2 separate regions of the Homo sapiens genome follow, and region 2 is linked to region 1. The links come from fine-mapping of genetic effects on gene expression. A gene starts in region 1. The other region holds a variant in brackets. All regions are shown on one strand. Distances are from middle to middle. Region 1 holds the start of PSMD4 (proteasome 26S subunit ubiquitin receptor, non-ATPase 4). Region 2 overlaps ANXA9 (annexin A9).

Region 1 (5,000 bases):
TTTGACAAAGCTGACAAAACAAGCAGTGAGGAAAAAGAGTCCCTATTCAATAACTGGGGATACTGGCTAGGCTAGCCATATGCAGAAGATTGAAGCTGGACTCCTTTCTTATACCATACACAAAAATTAACTGAAGATGGATTAAAGACAAGGTAAAACCCAAAACTATAAAAATCCTGGAAGACCGGCCGGGCACAGTGGCTCACGCCTATAATGCCAGCACTTTGGGAGGCTGAGGCGGGCGGATCACCTGAGGGTGGGAGTTCGAGACCAGCCTGACCAACATGGAGAAACCTGGTCTCTACTAAAAACACAAAATTAGCTGGGCGTGGTGGCGCATGCCTGTAATCCCAGCTACTAAGGAGGCTGAGGCAGGAGAATCGCTTGAACACGGGAGGCGGAGGTTGCGGTGAGCCGAAGGTTGCGGGGAGCTGAGATTGTGTCATTGCACTCCAGCCTGGGCAATAAGAGCGAAAAAAAAAAAAAGTGGGCAAAGGAGCCGGGCACAGTGGCTCAACGCCTGTAATCCCTGCACTTTGGGAGGCTGAGGCGGGTGGATCACCTGAGCTCAGCAGTTTGAGACTAGCCTGGCCAACATGATGAAACCCCGTCTCTACCAAAAATACAAAAAAGCTGGGCGTGGTGGCGGGCACCTGTAATCCCAGTTACTCAGGAGGCTGAGGCAGGAGAATCACTTGAACCAGGGAGGCGGAGGTTGCAGTGAGCTGAGATGGCGCCACTGTACTCCAACCTGGGCAACAAGAGCAAAACTCCTTCTCAAAGAGAAAAAAAAAAAAAAAAGTGGGCAAAGGACATGAACAGACATCAGACACTTTATTTTTATTTATTTATTTATTTATTTATTTATTTTATTATTATTTTTTTTTTTTTGAGAGGGAGTCTCACTCTGTCGCCCAGGCTAGAGTGCAGTGGCGCCATCTCGGCTCACTGCAACCTCCACCTCCGGGGTTCAAACGATTCTCCCACCTCAGCCTCTGGAGTAGCTGGGACTACAGGCGTCCACCACCACGCCTGGCTAATTTTTGTATTTTTAGTAGAGATGGGGTTTCACCATGTTGGCCAGGCTGGTCAGTAACTCCTGACCTCAGGTGATACACCCACTTCAGCCTTCCAAAGTGCTGGGATTACAGGCCTGAGCCACGCCCCAGCCAGACACTTTTCAAAAGACGATATACATACAGCCAACAAGCCTATTAAAAAAACCTCAATATCACTGATCATTAGAGAAATGCAAATAAATCAAAACCACAACGAGATACCACCTAACACCAGTCAGAATGGCTATTACTAAAAACTAAAAAAATAACAGATGCTGGCAAGGTTGCGAGAAAAGAGAACACTGTTCTATCGTTGGTGCAAGTGTAAATTAGTTCAATCACTGGGAATCACTTGAACCAGGGAGGCGGAGGCTGCAGTGAGCCAGACTGGGCCACTGCACTCCAGTCCGGGAGACAGAGCGAGACCGTCTCAAAAAAAAATTATTCATCGTTTATCTGAAACTCAAATTTCACTGGGCATCCTGTATGTTATCTGGCAATGCTATGCTCCCCCGAGAAAATAAAAAGAAGAAATCTCATAGGTGCCTGTTTCACCCAATCGGTGATTTGTGTTCGTCAACTATTCTGTATTACATTCAGTGATTACACTTAGAAGGAACTCTTGAAACCCTGCAAAAATTTATGTCCTCCTCTTCTAATGTGACTCGTAATAGGTACTCAGCCCAAGCCTGAAACTGACAAAGAGAGCTACCTCACCGGATAAAGCCTTTGTGTCAGACAGCCGTGGGTTTAAATCTTGACTCCACCACTTAACTAGCTGTATGATTTTGGACAAATCACTTAAAATCGCTGAGACTCGGTATCCTGAACCGTAAAATGGAGAGATAATTTACCTTAAGGTGTGGTTGTGAGGTATAAGTGAGATAAACAAAATGACTGATACATAAAAAGCAATCTGTAAATGGTACCTTTGAAGATGATACAGGGAAAGGTAATGAAGTTAGAGACGAGGGAATGGGGAGAGGAAGGGATTAATAATCTATTTTCCTAATAGACGTTATTTTGCAAAGAAAGGAGGGCAGAAAACTATTACGATGAGTCCGAAAAGCAGAACTGTAGCTAAAGACAGACCCGGGCTGCTCTAGAGAAGACGGCGCTAGAACAGAGAAAGGAAGCAGGAATGACCAGTCAATGACCGTCCCCCTGGGGGTAACAGTGGTAACCCGGGACTATCCGCCACTCCAGGGCCCCGGGATGACTCAGGGAGTCCAGCGGGCTCCTTACCTCCGGGGCCAGGGCCGCCTCTCGCCCATGAGCCCCTGGCCCCCACCCCAGGCCCTCCCTGCCTTGGCGCTACACGCGCCCGGAACCCAGCTCTGCCCCTCCTGCCCCGAAGTAGCTCCTCACCACACCATAGTGCTTTCCAACACCATCTTGCCACCTTCCTCCCTCCCGACCGGGTCTCCGGGACGGCCTAACAACAACTCCTCCAATTGGCCCGTCGCTCTTCACCAATCACAGACCTCGGCTTGGCCAGCTGCTTCCGCCTCCGTCCCCCACGTTGCGTTCTGGGAGTTGTAGGTGCCGCCAAACAAATTTGTAGGCGTCTTGAGGGTAGTTGAAGGGAATCGCGGTAACACAAAAAACAGGATCTAGCCTCCACTTTCCCTGCCATTGCAGTTCTCAGTTGGGGTTTCCCGCTGGCCGGATCTCAGGGGAGCTATGGAGGAACCTTTGAAAGTGCTGTGTCGATTCCGGCTTCGGCATTTTAAAAAAGTGTCGGGATCGGCCGAGCGCGGTGGCTCACGCCTGTTAGCCCAGCACTTTGGGAGGCCAAGGCGGGCGGATCACGAGGTCAGGAGTTCGAGACCAGCCTGGCCAGCATGGTGAAACCCTGTCTCTACTAAAAATACAAAAAATTAGCCGGGCATGGTGGCGCACGCCTGTAATCCCCGCTACTCGGGAGGCTGAGGCAGGAGAATTACTTGAACCCGGGAGGCAGAGATTGCAGTGAGCCGAGATCGCGCCACTGCACTCCAGCCTGGGGGACAGAGTGAGACTCCGTCTCAAAAAAAGAAAAAAAAAAGTGTCGGGATCGCTAATGACTTTCTACAGCCCTCAGTTCCCTGTAGAATTTTAATTCAACAAGCCCTTATACCCTTCAATTGAATTTATTTGTATATTTATCTCCTCCCTCGTTTAACTAAGGGTGGGCAACGTGCCTTTTTTTTTTTTTTTTTTTTTTTTTTTTTTTTTTTTTTTGAGACGGAGGAGTCTCGCTCTTTCACCCAGGCTAGAGTGCAGTGGCTCGATCTCGGCTCACTGCAACCTCCACCTCCTGGGTTCCAGGGATTCTCCTGCCTCAGCCTCCCAGGTAGCTGGGACTACAGGGGCATTCCACCATGCCCGGCTAATTTTGTATTTTTAGTAGAGACGAGGTTTCACCATGTTGGCCAGGCTGGTCTCGATTTCCTGACCTCAGATGATCCACCCACCTCAGCTTCCCAAAGTGCTGGGATTACAGGCGTGAGCCACCACACCTGGCCGGCAACGTGTCTTAATCTTTACAATTCCCTAAGCCCAGTACAGAGCCCGGAAAAGATTTGACAACTCAATTATATTAACTAATCTGCCAAAGAACAAACCACTAAACCGTTTTGGTTAATCAAAAATTACATTCAAGGCCTGATGCAATGGCTTAGGTTTTATAATCCCAGCGTTTTGGGAGGCCCAGGCAGGAGGATCAACTCAGGCTAGGAGTCTGAGACCAGCCTGGACAACACAGCCAGACTCCGTCTCTACAAAGTTTTATTGTTTGAGACAGGGTGTCGCTCTGTTGCCCAGATTGGAGTGCAGTGGCCTGATCTCGGCTCACTGCAATCTCCACCTCCCGGGTTCAAGCCATCCTCCTGCCTCAGCCTCCTGAGTAGCTGGGGCTATAGGTGCATGCCACCAAGCCCAGCTAATTTGTTTTTAATTTTTTGATGTGGGAGGATGGCTTGAGCGCATGAGTTCGAGACCAGCGTAGGCAACATAGCCAGACCCCATCTCTGAAAAAAAAAAAGTCTCAAAGTGTTGGGATTACAGGCGTGAGCCATCACATCAGCTGGATATTTGATATTAAGCAATTTTTTTAGGCATGATAATAGTGTTAAAGTTATCACCCTTATAAAAGTAGGCTTTATTAAGGGTTATATGTTGTATTCATAGATAAAAAAAGTATATGAAGTTTGGGATTTAACTTAATCCTCTGGAAGAAACAAATAGTTTTGTTTTTTGAGACAGGGTCTCAAAGTAAAACAAAAGAGACAAGGTCTCACTGGGCTGGAGTGCAGCAGTGGTGCAATCATACATAGCTCACTGCAACCTCTAACTCCTGGCCTCCCATCTCAGCCTCCGAAAACTGGGATTACAGGCTTGAGCCACTGCACCCGGCCACGCTGGTCTTATTTATGTTGATAATTATTGAGGCTGGGTTATGTGTACATAGTGGTTCACCATACTACTCTACTTTTGGTTTGGAAATTCCCATAATGAAAAAAAGAAGGCCAGCTGGGCACGGTGGCTCACGCCTGTAATCCCAGCACTGAGAGGCCGAGGTGGGCAGATCACTTGAGGTTGGGAGTCCGAGACCAGCCTGGATACCCCCGTCGCTACAAAAAAATACAAAAATTAGCTGATTGTGATGGTGCCAGCCTGTAGTCCCAGCTACTTGAGAGACTGAGGTAGGAAAGTCGCCTGAGCCCAGAAAGTCAAGGCTAGAGTGAGCTGAGATTGCTCTGGGTAACAGAGCAAGACTAAAAAAGAAAACCAAGGCTGGGAAATCTCAGCACTTTGGGAGGCCGAGGCGGACGGATCATAAGTTCAGGAGATCGAGAACATCTTGGCCAACATGGTGAAATCCCATCCTACTAAAGATACAAAAATTAGCCGGGCATTGTGGTGGGTGCCTATAGTCCCAGCTACTCTGGAGGCTGAGGC
Region 2 (5,520 bases), 270 kb after region 1:
TTTTTTTTGAGGCAGGTCTCACTTTGTCACCCAGACTGGAGCGCAGTGGCGTCACCTCGGCTGACCGCAACCTCTGCTTCCCAGGCTCGAGATTCTCCTGCTTCAGCCTCCCAAGTAGCTGAGATTACAGGCGCTCACCACTACCCCCTGGCTAATTTTTGTATTTTTAGTAGAGATGGGGTTTCACCATGTTGGCCAGGCTGGTCTTGAACTCCTGGCCTCAAATAATCCACCCGCCTCAGCCTACCAAAGTCCTGGGATTACAGGCATGCGCCACAGCGCCCAGCCCGAGTTTTTCCTTTTTAGAAACAATTCAGAATTAGCCAGATATGGTGGCCTACGCCTGTAATCCCAGCTACTTAAGACACAGAGGCCAGAGAATCACTTGAACCCAGAAGGTGAAGGCTGCAGTGAGCTGAGATCACGCCACTGCACTCCAGCCTAGGCAACAGAGCCAGACTCTATCTCAAAAAAAAAATTTTTTTTTTCAGAAAAATGGGCCTATGTTATTTTCTGACTACCACTTCTTTTTTTCTTTTTTTGAGACAGGGTCTTGCTCTGTTACCCAGGCTGAAGTGCAGTGGAGTAATCACAGCTCACTGTAACTTCTAATTCATGGGCTCAAGCAATCCTCCCACCACATCCTCCTGAGTAGTTGGGACTAGAGGCAGGTGCCACCATGCCTGGCAAATTTTCTTCTTATTTTTGTAGAGACGAGTTCTTGCTATGTCGCCTAAGTTGGTCTTGAACTCCTGACCTCAAGCGATCCTCCCACCTTAGCTTCCCAAAGTGCTAGGATTACAGGTGTGAGCCACCATGCTTGGCCCCTGACTACTACTTCTAAGATAAATCTTTTATCTACACTCAAGAGTGTGGGTCTTGTAATCCAAATACACTACAAAATCATCTACTGCTGGGATAGTTTGTATTTATGACAGGAATTTGGACAGATAAGTACAACTCTTCAAATGAATCTTAGTGTTGACTCATTATAATCATACAGGCTTTATTGGGCAAGTATAATAATCTACTGTCAAGATAGAAATCTCTAGATGACAGAACAATTGCTTATATTTACTAACTTTTGGGCAATCATCAACATGGCATGATGGCTTCTCAACCAGTCTACAGAAAGCTATTCCATCTGCCAAAATGATAACTACTTTTTTAGTCTGACTGTGTCACCCAGGCTGGAGTGCAGTGGCGTGATCTTGGTTCACTACAACCTCCGCCTCCCAGGTTCAAGCAATTCTCCTGCCTCAGACTCCCAAGTAGCTGGAATTACAGGTGCCTGCCACCATGCCTGGCTAATTTTTGTATTTTTAGTAGAGACAGGGTTTCACCACGTTGGCCAGGCTGGTCTCGAACTCCTGACCTCAAGTGATCCATCCACCTTGGCCTCCCAAAGTGCTGGGATTATAGGCGTGAGCCACTGCGCCCTTCCTGAACTTTTTATTTATAGATTTTGGGGGACAGTTCTACTAATAGGAGACCTAATTCAATCAACAGAATAACTGGATTCTATTGGTGGAAGCACTCAAGCCACAGTCAGCAGTTTAAGTACGGATAATATGGGCTGGGCGCAGTGGCTCACGCCTGTAATCCTAGCACTTCGGGAGGCCGAGACAGGTTGATGACCTGAGGTCAGGAGTTTGAGACCAGCCTGACCAACATGGTGAAACCGCATCTGCTAAAAATACAAAAAATTAGGATAATGTGGTGGCGGGCGCCTGTAATCCCAGCTATTTGGGAGGCTGAGGCAGGAAAATCGCTTGAATCCAGGAGGCGGAGGTTGCCATGAGCCGAGATTGTGCCACTGCACTCCAGCCTCCAGCCTGGGCAACAAGAGTGAAACTCCATCTCAAAAAAAAAAAAAAAAGTATGGATAATGTGGAACAAAATCTGACCAGCGTGGAGAAAGGGGGCCTTGGGTGCTAAGAGCACTTATCGTATAGCTGACAAGGATGGTCAATATCTTACATCGTGAAGTGTTGTGTAGGGAGACTGTATAACTTACTAGCTACGTGACCTCAAGCAAGGTACTTAACTTCTCTGGGCTTCAGTTTTTTCATCTATAAGATACGGATGGATATGGTTGTGAGGATTAATTGAAATATGTGTGCCCTGCTCAGGATAGGCTGTGGCACACAATCAGCACCTGCAAAATGCCAGCCCTTGTCATTATTCTTGCTAGTGTTATCACCATCACTCTGGCAACAACTAAGCCTGCACAAGGCACTGTCTTACAGAGCAGATTCATATCTCTATTTGGCCACCTAGACATTAACAAGGCCAAAATGTTAGTTTCAGGGCCCCTGGGAGCCAACTAAGTTAGTTCTCACCACAGCTCATTCCTCCACCCCTGTGTAAGCCCTGGTGTGTAAGCCCTGGGAAGGAGAG[C/T]GGCTTGAGGTTTAGACGGTGTATATAGGATGGTTACATAAGCAGCAAGCTGAGACTTCCTCTCTCCTCCCCAGTTTCTGTTCTGGGGAGGGAAAGGAGTGCCCCTCTCACCTGGAGGGCTTGATGAAGTTTGTCAGCAAAGTACAGCGGTGTGTTCTTGATCACCGAAGCTGGAAACAAAGATGGAAGGATGGAGGTTCACAACTAGGACCACAATCTCCCATCCCAAGAGAGACTTACTTCACAAATCCTGAGCAGGCCCCTACCTAGGCCGAGCAGAGCCACCTGAGCATCTCCATGGAAACGGTTCTGGACAGCCTCCTCCAGCTCTTGCCCAGTGCTCCGCTGGTACTGATCAAACACTTGTGTGTGTAGGAGGCAGTTAGAAAGATGGATGGGGGATTAATTATCTCTGGAAAGGATGGGCCCTCCCCACCTTCCTCAGCCCAAACTGATCATTAGAGCAAGCTAGGGGGACAAGAAGGCTTGTGTGTACCTCGGATGAGGTGTTCAGGATTTCGCTGGGTGAAGACTGGGACCCATGTTTCCTCTCTGCTAGGTCCTTCTGCCCGCTGCAGTGCCTAGGAGGGAGGAATGAGTCAGGGAGGAGTCAATCAGGATCATTGGTTGGGGCCTAGGGAGCCATGGGTATGACGTTCCAGAATCTATCATCATCATGATGGAAATGGGATTGAGGGTGGAAAAGGATTTTTTTTTTTTTTTTTGAGAAGGACTCTCATTCTGTCACCCAGGCTGGAGTGCAATGGTGTGATCCCAGCTCACCACAACCTCTGCCTCCCAGGTTCAAGTGATTCTCCAGGCTCAGCCTCCTGAGTAGCTGGGATTACAGGCACTCACCATCATGCCTGGCTAATTTTTGTATTTTTAGTAGAGACGGGGTTTCACCATGTTGGCTAGGCTGGTTTCGAACTCCTGACCTCAAGTGATCCACCTGTCTCGGCCTCCCAAATTGTTGGGATTATAGGTGTGAGCCACCACGACCAGCCAGAAAGTTTATTTTAACCCGTAAACTAGGTTTGTGTGTGTGCGTGTGTGTGTGTGTGTGTGTGTGAGAGAGAGAGAGAGAGAGAGCGAGAGAGATGGGGTCTCTCTCTGTCACCCAGGCTGGAGTGCAGTGGCATGACCAGGGCTTACCTCAGCCTCAACTTCCCAGGCTCAAGCGATCCTCCCACCTCAGCCTCCTAGCTAGCTGGAACTACAGGTGCAGCTAATTTTTAAAAATATTTTGTGGAGATAGAGTCTCACTATGTTGCCTAGGCTGGTCTTGGACTCCTGGGCTCAAGTGATCCTCTTGTTTCAGCCTCCCAAAGTGCTGGGATTACAGGTATAAGCCACCATGCCTGGCCTACTAGTTGTTTTTATTTATGTTTTTTTATCTTATGTTTTTTATTTTTTAAGAAAGAAATAGGGCTAAGAGAGGGCTCTGCCCTTACAGCCTCACAGCTCTATTCACTGATTTGGAAAAATCCTGGTACCCGAGGATTAAATAATCCCCAAAAGGTCTGAGGAGGCTTTCTGCCCCCAAACGCTCATGAGAGGAGAATATGTCAGTTGATGAGCTCAGGAGTCAGAGGCTAGATGAGTGAAAAGGCTTCAGCTATGACGCTACCTGACACCTCCTGCCCCTACCACATAACTGAGAACTCCCTCTCCAAGGCAGGGATGGGTTTGCGGGAAAAATGGGCACGTAGGTCACCGGCTCTAAGATATGGTGGAGGAAGGCATCTTATGTGCATGGCGGCTGTGCACACTCCTAAACCCCCTGCTCACCTGGACATCTTGTTCTGCCAGATTATAGTCAATGATTCCAGAGTAGCTGTCACGGCCCCCCTAGGAGGAGAAACTGTTCTTAGAGGGCTCTTTGAAGGGCACCTTTTTATCTTCAGACCAACAAGCGAAGGCTGGTCTCCCCTAAAGCCCTCTCTTGTCCATTACAGGACAGCAATGCTCCCTGCTCCAGCGTGTCTCCTTGCCTGGTGAACGTGACTCCCTTCCTTGCAGGTCAGTCCTCCTCACCTTGGCCAGGGCCAACAGCAGGTCCTGCAAGATGCCACTGGTCTCAGATGTGATGTCATCCACAGCCTCCACCTGGAAATCTGGGGTGGGGTGAGGAGCTCTCTGAATCCTCCTGAGTTTTCCTAGTGTAGATATCCCCAGGACCTGCCAAATGCCTGACCCGCTATACCCTGCCAGCCCTGCTAGCCCCTGCTTGGAGTAGCTTGATGGCTGCTAATTCCCAGGATGTAAGGCACAAGTACCATCACGGCCACTCTAAAAACATCTCTAAGTTGTGAGGTGTGCAGTGGCTTCATCACCAAGCACCAACCTGCTGGGCAGGAGGCAACCATTATTAGAGTTGGGGCCAGGCAGTGAAGAAGAGCTAGGGAAACCCGTATTATAACACAAGATGGTTAGGACCTGGCACCCTCATTGGAGGTAAGGAAAAATGATATGAGAGGTGGGATATGAGGAAGGAAAAGAGCAGGAAAGGGAGAAAAAGAAAGAGAAAAGGGAAACAGATGCAAGAAGGAAGGAAGGTAGGAGAGGGATTAAGAACATAGGCCACGGCCAGGGCGGTGGCTCATGCTTGTAATCCCAGCACTTTCAGAGGCTGAGGCAGGAGATGGCTTGAGCCCAGAAGTTCGAGACCAGCCTGGACAACACAGCGAAACCCCATCTCTACAAAAAATACAAAATTTAGCTGGGCATGGTGGTGGCACACCTGTAGTCCCAGCTACTTAGGAGGCTGAGGTGGGAGGACTGATTGAGCCCAGAAGGGTCAAGGCTGCAGTGAGCCATGATGACATCACTGCACAGCCTAGGCTACAGGGCAAGACCTTGTCTCAAAAGAAGAACATAGGCCAAGATTAGACATCAAAGGAAAATTGGGGAAAGCAAGAAAAAGAGGTAGGGGTGGGGGGAAGGGGTGGTAAGATGAGGATGGGAAAAAGCCACAAATTAGTGGGTGAGACACTTGTAGCCAAGCAAGGCCAGCCATCAGGGACATGAAAGGTGACACCCATGACTCAGAGGGCAGATTCCCACCTTTTCCTCAGGCTGCAGCATGGCTGGGTTCAGCTTGGAATGTGGTGTGATGGC

What was found. PIP is the estimated chance that this variant, and not a neighbour inherited with it, causes the effect. A credible set is the group of variants that fine-mapping cannot tell apart.
Region 2: its variant is the best candidate, but not a certain one, in a credible set for the expression of PSMD4 in whole blood (INTERVAL, PIP 0.61).

The regions. Positions count from the first base shown.
Region 1 is chr1:151,252,235-151,257,234 of GRCh38, reverse strand. PSMD4 (proteasome 26S subunit ubiquitin receptor, non-ATPase 4) reads right to left here and starts at 2,501. Exons shown (of 10, transcript NM_002810.4): 1 at 2,427-2,501. The coding sequence starts at 2,452. RefSeq lists a silencer at 2,240-2,379 and an enhancer at 2,420-2,609.
Region 2 is chr1:150,985,333-150,990,852 of GRCh38, reverse strand. It overlaps ANXA9 (annexin A9), which reads right to left. Exons shown (of 14, transcript NM_003568.3): 8 at 4,438-4,517; 9 at 4,192-4,251; 10 at 2,897-2,981; 11 at 2,667-2,762; 12 at 2,512-2,570. Among named protein-coding and RNA genes, the nearest start is that of ANXA9, 5.8 kb to the right of the region's middle. The variant C/T (reference allele first, on the strand shown) is at 2,401.